Linked DNA regions of Homo sapiens. The protein of the gene in region 1 interacts with the protein of each later gene in a pairwise test. Each region holds a gene or a part of one and is shown on either strand. Other genes may lie near its edges.

Region 1 (2,969 bases):
TACCAGAGTCCCAAGTTTCTGGGGGGTTCCCAGGTTAGCCCAAGCCGTGCTAAAGCTCCAGTGAACACATATGGACCTGGCTTTGGACCCAACTTGCCCAATCACAAGTCAGGTTCCTATCCCACCCCTTCACCATGCCATGAAAATTTTGTAGTGGGGGCAAATAGGGCTTCACATAGGGCAGCAGCACCACCTCGACTTCTGCCCCCATTGCCCACTTGCTATGGGCCTCTCAAAGTGGGAGGCACAAACCCCAGCTGTGGTCATCCTGAGGTGGGCAGGCTAGGAGGGGGTCCTGCCTTGTACCCTCCTCCCGAAGGACAGGTATGTAACCCCCTGGACTCTCTTGATCTTGACAACACTCAGCTGGACTTTGTGGCTATTCTGGATGAGCCCCAGGGGCTGAGTCCTCCTCCTTCCCATGATCAGCGGGGCAGCTCTGGACATACCCCACCTCCCTCTGGGCCCCCCAACATGGCTGTGGGCAACATGAGTGTCTTACTGAGATCCCTACCTGGGGAAACAGAATTCCTCAACTCTAGTGCCTAAAGAGTAGGGAATCTCATCCATCACAGATCGCATTTCCTAAGGGGTTTCTATCCTTCCAGAAAAATTGGGGGAGCTGCAGTCCCATGCACAAGATGCCCCAGGGATGGGAGGTATGGGCTGGGGGCTATGTATAGTCTGTATACGTTTTGAGGAGAAATTTGATAATGACACTGTTTCCTGATAATAAAGGAACTGCATCAGAAAAAATACCATGCCACTTTATGTATTATTATGTTGGGGAGGAATGATAACAGGGAACAAGAAGAGAAGCAGGGGTTAATCCACTCACTTTCCTCTTTAGAGAAGCTCCCTCACCCATCCCAACACCTCAAGTCACACTCATGAAGATAGAGACAGTCATTTGGGAGATTTAAAGGGATATCCTCAAAACAGAACACCAGCCTCTCACCACCAGAGATGACCGGAAATATGTTTTCTCTTCTTCCTTCCCTGCATCAGGGGAAGAGGCTGGTGAAGTTGGTGAGCATCAGCTGGACCAGCTGCCCTGGGTAGAGAGCATGGGCTGCTGGGTCAGATGTCTCCTGCTCTGGCCGAAACAGGGTTGGTCCAAACACAATTCCCAGGTTGTGGGGTGTCATGCGATTCTTATCTGAGTGTGCTATCACCCTGTAAGCAAAGGCCAAGGAAGGGGATATATGGCAGCAGCTTGCCACTTCATAGCAATCTAACTAACCCTTCAAAGTTCTGAGCAGGGAAGAGTTCACTCTGGGATTCCTCCACATGGTAACAAAAAAACCAAGGAGATACAAGGAGAATGGAGATGGACCAGTGGAGAAACCTTCAGGATACAACCTGAAGATATAACTGCCTCTTCCGACTTCAGGGGCTGCCCCAAGAGTTCTGCCTGCTCACAGTTTGGGAGTCTTTAATTCAAGTGGCCATCCTCTCTCAGAAGTCACTGCCCAGGCCCAGTTCAACCAAAGAAGCCATCAGCAATGTCCCAATGGGAGACAAAGAGGCAGAGGGAAGGGAGAAGTAAGATTTCCCTTATTCCTTTCACAGCATCTTGGTTCCATTTCCCCACTTGATGCTGACCTTTAGGTTTTGACCTAAAGTCTTTGACGGGCACGGTGTAATCCCAGCACTTTGGGAGGCTGAGGTGGGTAAATCACCTGAGGTCAGGAGTTCGAGACCAGCCTGGCCAACATGGTGAAACCCCGTCTCTACTAAAAATACAAAAATTAGCCAGGCGTGGTGGCGGGCACCTGTAATCCCAGTTACTCAGGAGGCTGAGGCAGGAGAATTACTTGAACCCGGGAGGCAGAGGTTGCAGTGAGCTGAAATTGCGCCACTGCACTCCAGTCTGGGTGACAGAGCGAGACTCTGTCTCAAAAATAAATAAAATAAAAAAATAAAGGTTTTGACTCTGGTAATATGCTCCTGCACAGAGGTTGCCTGCTTCCTCACCTGCCCATTAAACTTAGGTGCTTCCCTACCTTCACTCCACCTGCACAGAGTCCCTGTGGCATTCCCCACTCCACCTTTCCCCAGCATGAACAAAGAGGTTCTGTCTTCCTGACCTGCATAAATGCTCCAGGAGGTACCGTAGAGTGTCATGGTTGGGCTTTGGCATTGAGCCTATTAATTCTTGTATCTGAGAGAGGCACTGCTCTGATTCGGAGAGTGCTAGAGAGAGTGATGGGAAAGGCATGGTAGTAAGGTTAGGGAAGGTGCTAGGACAGGATGGGTAAATGCACTGCTCTTTCCCACAGGCATGGAAGACATCATTAATCTAGCACAGCTTTCTTTTTCACATAGCCCAACTATAGCCTCATAATTCTTTTCAATTCAGCCCTCTAAACATTCACAAAAAAGCAACTGGAGTAGGCACCTGAGTTGAACATTATTTTCCATCTCTAAAGTCAGAATGGGAAAGAAGAGTATAAGGGAACCTCTATTCTATTATTTACCACCCGTGTCCCCCACATCAAGGGTTCTTTCCAAAGCTCCAACCCTTACCAAGGGCAGCACGGAAATGGGGCAGCAGCAGTGGTGGCACCAGAGGCTGGGGCAGCTCCCGGAGAAAAAGCTTCAGGGCTCCGGTGACCACATGAATGTCATCCCACTCAGTACTGTCCAAATCTAACCGACCTTCTGGAGGGAGAAGGAGGTATAGGGGCTCATGAAGGGCCAGAAAGATTTAGAGACTGAGAGATTAGAAGTTCTGGAGAAATCCAGTCAAAGCAGACTATAGGAATGCCTAGAGGGTCTGCAGTGGGGCAAGGTAGCTAAGGTGGGGATGAGGACAACCCTCCCAGGAATAGTACATGGGGGTTTCCACGGGAAGCAAAGAGGATATGTGGAAGTTTTAGGGATCTGAAGGGTCTTCCATGTAAGTACCTTGTCCTGGCTGTTCTGGGAACACATACCTCCCATCGGAGGTGACCGCACGCTCTGCA
Region 2 (3,500 bases), on another chromosome or scaffold:
ACGCCCGGTCAATTTTGTATTTTTAGTAGAGACCGGATTTCTCCATTTTGGTCAGGCTGGTCTCGAACTCCCGACCTCAGGTGATCCGCGCGCCTCGGCCACCCAAACTGCTGGGATTACAGGGGTGAGCCACCGCGCCCGGCCAGGATTAAGTTCAAATGAGAAAATGGATGAGAATCTTCGAACACAGGGTCTGGTATACAGCAGGCGCTAAGTTATGTTAGTTCACTTCCTCTGTCTCCTTTCGCCCCTGTGCTGCGCTCCTTGGAGGAGGCATTCACTGAGGCTGGCCGGGGCAGATCCAAGAGAGGTGGGCTGGGGAGTGGCAGGAGGCAGAAAAGCGACCCCACGGTTGGGAAGAAGAGGGTGGACCTCCTTACCCGGTGGGGGTGGGGACAACTCCTCCAGCGTGGGAGGCCGCTGGAACACCTCGACGGCTGCTGGTGGAGGAGGTGGGTCCAAGGAGCTGGGGAGAGGTGGGGCTGGAGGTGCTGCCTGCCCCTTGGGCGTGGGGGCCCCACCGACACCTTCGGCGCTGCTGAACACCAGAGAGCCCGGTTGGCGGACACGCCTTCCCTAATGCAGCATCCCCAACTGGCCCCACCCCTCCAATCCTGACCCCAGCCCTGCACGTGTGACCCAGGAGTAACTGGGTCCTTTCAAGCCCAGGAGTCACTATGACCACTGGCAGGTGGCCCCTCTCAAAAGCCACTTCCCACCCCCCACCCACCCACGTGGGCTTGTAGGTCTCACCCGGCCGAGGCCAGGGAAAACGCAGAGGAGGCGGCGGAGAGTCTGCCGTCGGGCACCACCGGCAGGTGCACTGGCTCGGGAATCCGGGGTGGTCTCCTGGCGGGGGGCAGGGAGTGGGTATTAGGAGGAAGGAGGAAGGCTTCTGGCCAGCAGGGGTCGGGTGCGAGCAGGAAGGGCAGGTGGCCGAGGGGGAGGTTTGGCGCCAGGCATCCAGCATGACGGCCTGAGCACCCGGGGGCGCCAGGGGTGGGTGGCGAGGCTGGGGGAGGAGAGTTTCAGGGTCGCGCGGGGCAGGGCTAGGCTAGTTGGCGTCGCGGCGAGGCCTCACCCCAAGGTGGCGGAGGCGGGTGTGGCAGGGGCCTTGATGCTCTTTCGAGACAGGGTGCCTGTTCTTGACAGCTGCGTGCTGAGGTCCTGCGAGGGAGCGGGAGGTAGGGCTTACATTTGGGGTGAGGGGCCTCCCTCCACCCTCATCCCCAAGAGGAAATGGAGGAGGGGCGGACGGGAACCGGGAGGGAGAGCCCGGCATAGCCAGTTCCCACTTCCACTTCTCAGGCCCCTCTCCTACACTTCCCCCACCCCACCCCCTTGTCATTGCCTGGGTTCTGGGACTCAGTTCTACCAAAGCCCACAGCCACTTCCTCTGCACAGCCACAGCGGGTTGAGTGGGCCCAGCACCCCTGTCCCTCCCCCAGACCATCTCAGAGCCCAGGAAGCTGGGGCCCTGGCTTGGTGGTCCCTAACTTTGATCGGGCTGAGGAGGGGGCGGAGAAAGGAGAGGACACATCACACTTAGAAGTGTCCCACCTTTCATTTTCGAAGATTTGTGGAACTGGCTTTGGGGAGTTAGGGCAGAGAGGAGCAAGACCCAGGCCACTTAGAGGGGATGCGCAAATGACAGGGTGCACGCCTACATGAAAGAGGGAACTGCTGTTACCAATGGGACTTCCCCAAGGGGTGGGTACAGTGTTACCCCATGGGCTTCACCAGGGGCAAGACAAAAGAGATTTGAGCTGAAGCACAAAGAATATAAGTTGGGCCGCGAGTGGTGGCTCACACCTGTAATCCCAGAACTTTGGGTGGCTCAGGCAAGAGGATCACCTGAGTTCAGGAGTTCAAGACCAGCCTGGCCACCATGGAGAAACCCTATCTCTACTAAAAATACAAAAAAAAAAAAAAAAAATTAGCCGGGCATGGTGGCGGGCGCCTGTAATCCCAGCTACTTGGGAGGCTGAGGCAGGAGAATCACTTGAACCTGGGAGGCGGAAGTTGCAGTGAGCCAAGATCGTGCCATTGCACTCCAACCTGGACAACAAGAGCGAAACTCCATCTCAAAAAAAAAAAATATAAGTTGGACAACAGAGAACTACTGGTGGGAAGGAGGCCTGGTGGTTGAAGGGGAGAATGTCGTTTCCCCTTTAAGGGGGGCTGATAAGTTAAGGATATCAAGGGGCTCATTTTGATACAGAAATGTTAAGGTGTGGAGACAGGAATTGAAGGTGGGACGGGTGTGAGTGCGTGCCCTTTCTGACCTCGCAGAAGGACATAGGCTGAGAAGACGCCAGCGCCATGCTCCCCTCCCTTCACCAAGTCCCCTTTGTGTGGCTGTATCCCCGCTTCTTCTCACCAACAGCAGCTCTGGGGTGACTGCTCAGTGCAGTGACCTCAAACCCCCAGACAGAGGAAGTTGCTGTTCTCATGTGGCTGGGAGCCATTCTCATGCACACCCTGACATCCTCCCTTCCCCCTCTTCCCCTTCCCACACGCCCGGTGCCCACAGGGGCAGGGCGGGGGGGCGAGGGGTGCTCAGGATCTCACACTCAGCAGATCCTCCGAGGATGGTACAGACCAGTTTTGGAGGGAGGGATTACAAAATCTAGGGAGAGGGAGAAGAGCTCAGAGTGGTGGTTTCAGGGAGCGGGGAAAGAAAGGAGTGGCAAGTGGGGACAAAACTTGCAGAACTGGGGTTCTGGAGGGAAAGGGGCCACAAGGCACGAGAGGGTGGGTTGGAGGGAAAGAGGAGGGCCCCTCTCTCTACCTTGATCCCATGGCCAATGTCGTCCAGGCAGCCAAAGTTGAGGGGTCTCCTGCAGTAGGGCGTGAGAGGGGGTAGGTTCTCTGGGGCGATGACCTTCTGGCCGGGGGGCAGCCGCTGGACAGTGGCTAAGGTGCCGATCTCCCTTCGGGCCACCTTCTCCATATGCATGTTCACCATCTGCATGACAGGGTTCAAGGTGACAGAGAGGGGTGGTCTGTGTCCAGCACCCTTCCCCCTAAGGAGGAAGAAGATAAAGACTGGGCTGGGGGGGGGAGGCAGCCAGGTCTAGAAAAAGAGGGCCCTGCCCCCCGCCCCCCGCCCCCCACCAGGCTACATAGCAATTGGGAAAAGTAGCAGGAAAGGATGGAGCCACTTTGGAGCAACTTCCTGGTGGAAAGAGAGTATGGGTTATTATTAGCTGTGCAGGAACAGGAGGAAAAGAGAAAACACAACATCCCTAGGGATGCTGGGAGGAGACAAGCACCCGGCTGACTTCGGAGCAGAGGGGGAGAATATGGAGGTGGCAGAGAATGGTGGCTGGATCAGCTCTCCCCTTTGGGGGACAAATAAGTAAATTGACTTCCTCTCAGAATGTTCCATGGAGAAAGCCTACAGTTCGAAAGGGTGGGAACTCTGGTCTGCGGCGGGGGAGGAAAAGACACACCCCACCCACTGAACATGTGGGTGATGTACAGGCCAGGCCAAATGT

Evidence for each region.
Region 2: the proteins of ARHGAP9 (region 1) and ABI3 interact in binary tests that used the Homo sapiens proteins (3 or more experiments, as listed by UniProt).

Annotation. Positions count from the first base shown.
Region 1 is NC_000012.12:57,471,513-57,474,481, forward strand, and holds the end of ARHGAP9 (rho GTPase-activating protein 9), read right to left. Parts: intron 2,965-2,969; coding exon 2,911-2,964; intron 2,665-2,910; coding exon 2,530-2,664; intron 2,197-2,529; coding exon 2,091-2,196; intron 1,177-2,090; coding exon 1,005-1,176; 3' UTR 757-1,004; downstream 1-756. Other genes in the region: zinc finger protein GLI1, read left to right, coding at 1-549. UniProt on the Homo sapiens protein: GTPase activator for the Rho-type GTPases by converting them to an inactive GDP-bound state. Has a substantial GAP activity toward CDC42 and RAC1 and less toward RHOA. Has a role in regulating adhesion of hematopoietic cells to the extracellular matrix.
Region 2 is NC_000017.11:49,217,207-49,220,706, reverse strand, and holds part of ABI3 (ABI gene family member 3), read right to left. Parts: intron 2,969-3,500; coding exon 2,792-2,968; intron 1,168-2,791; coding exon 1,082-1,167; intron 850-1,081; coding exon 754-849; intron 539-753; coding exon 381-538; intron 1-380. UniProt on the Homo sapiens protein: May inhibit tumor metastasis. In vitro, reduces cell motility.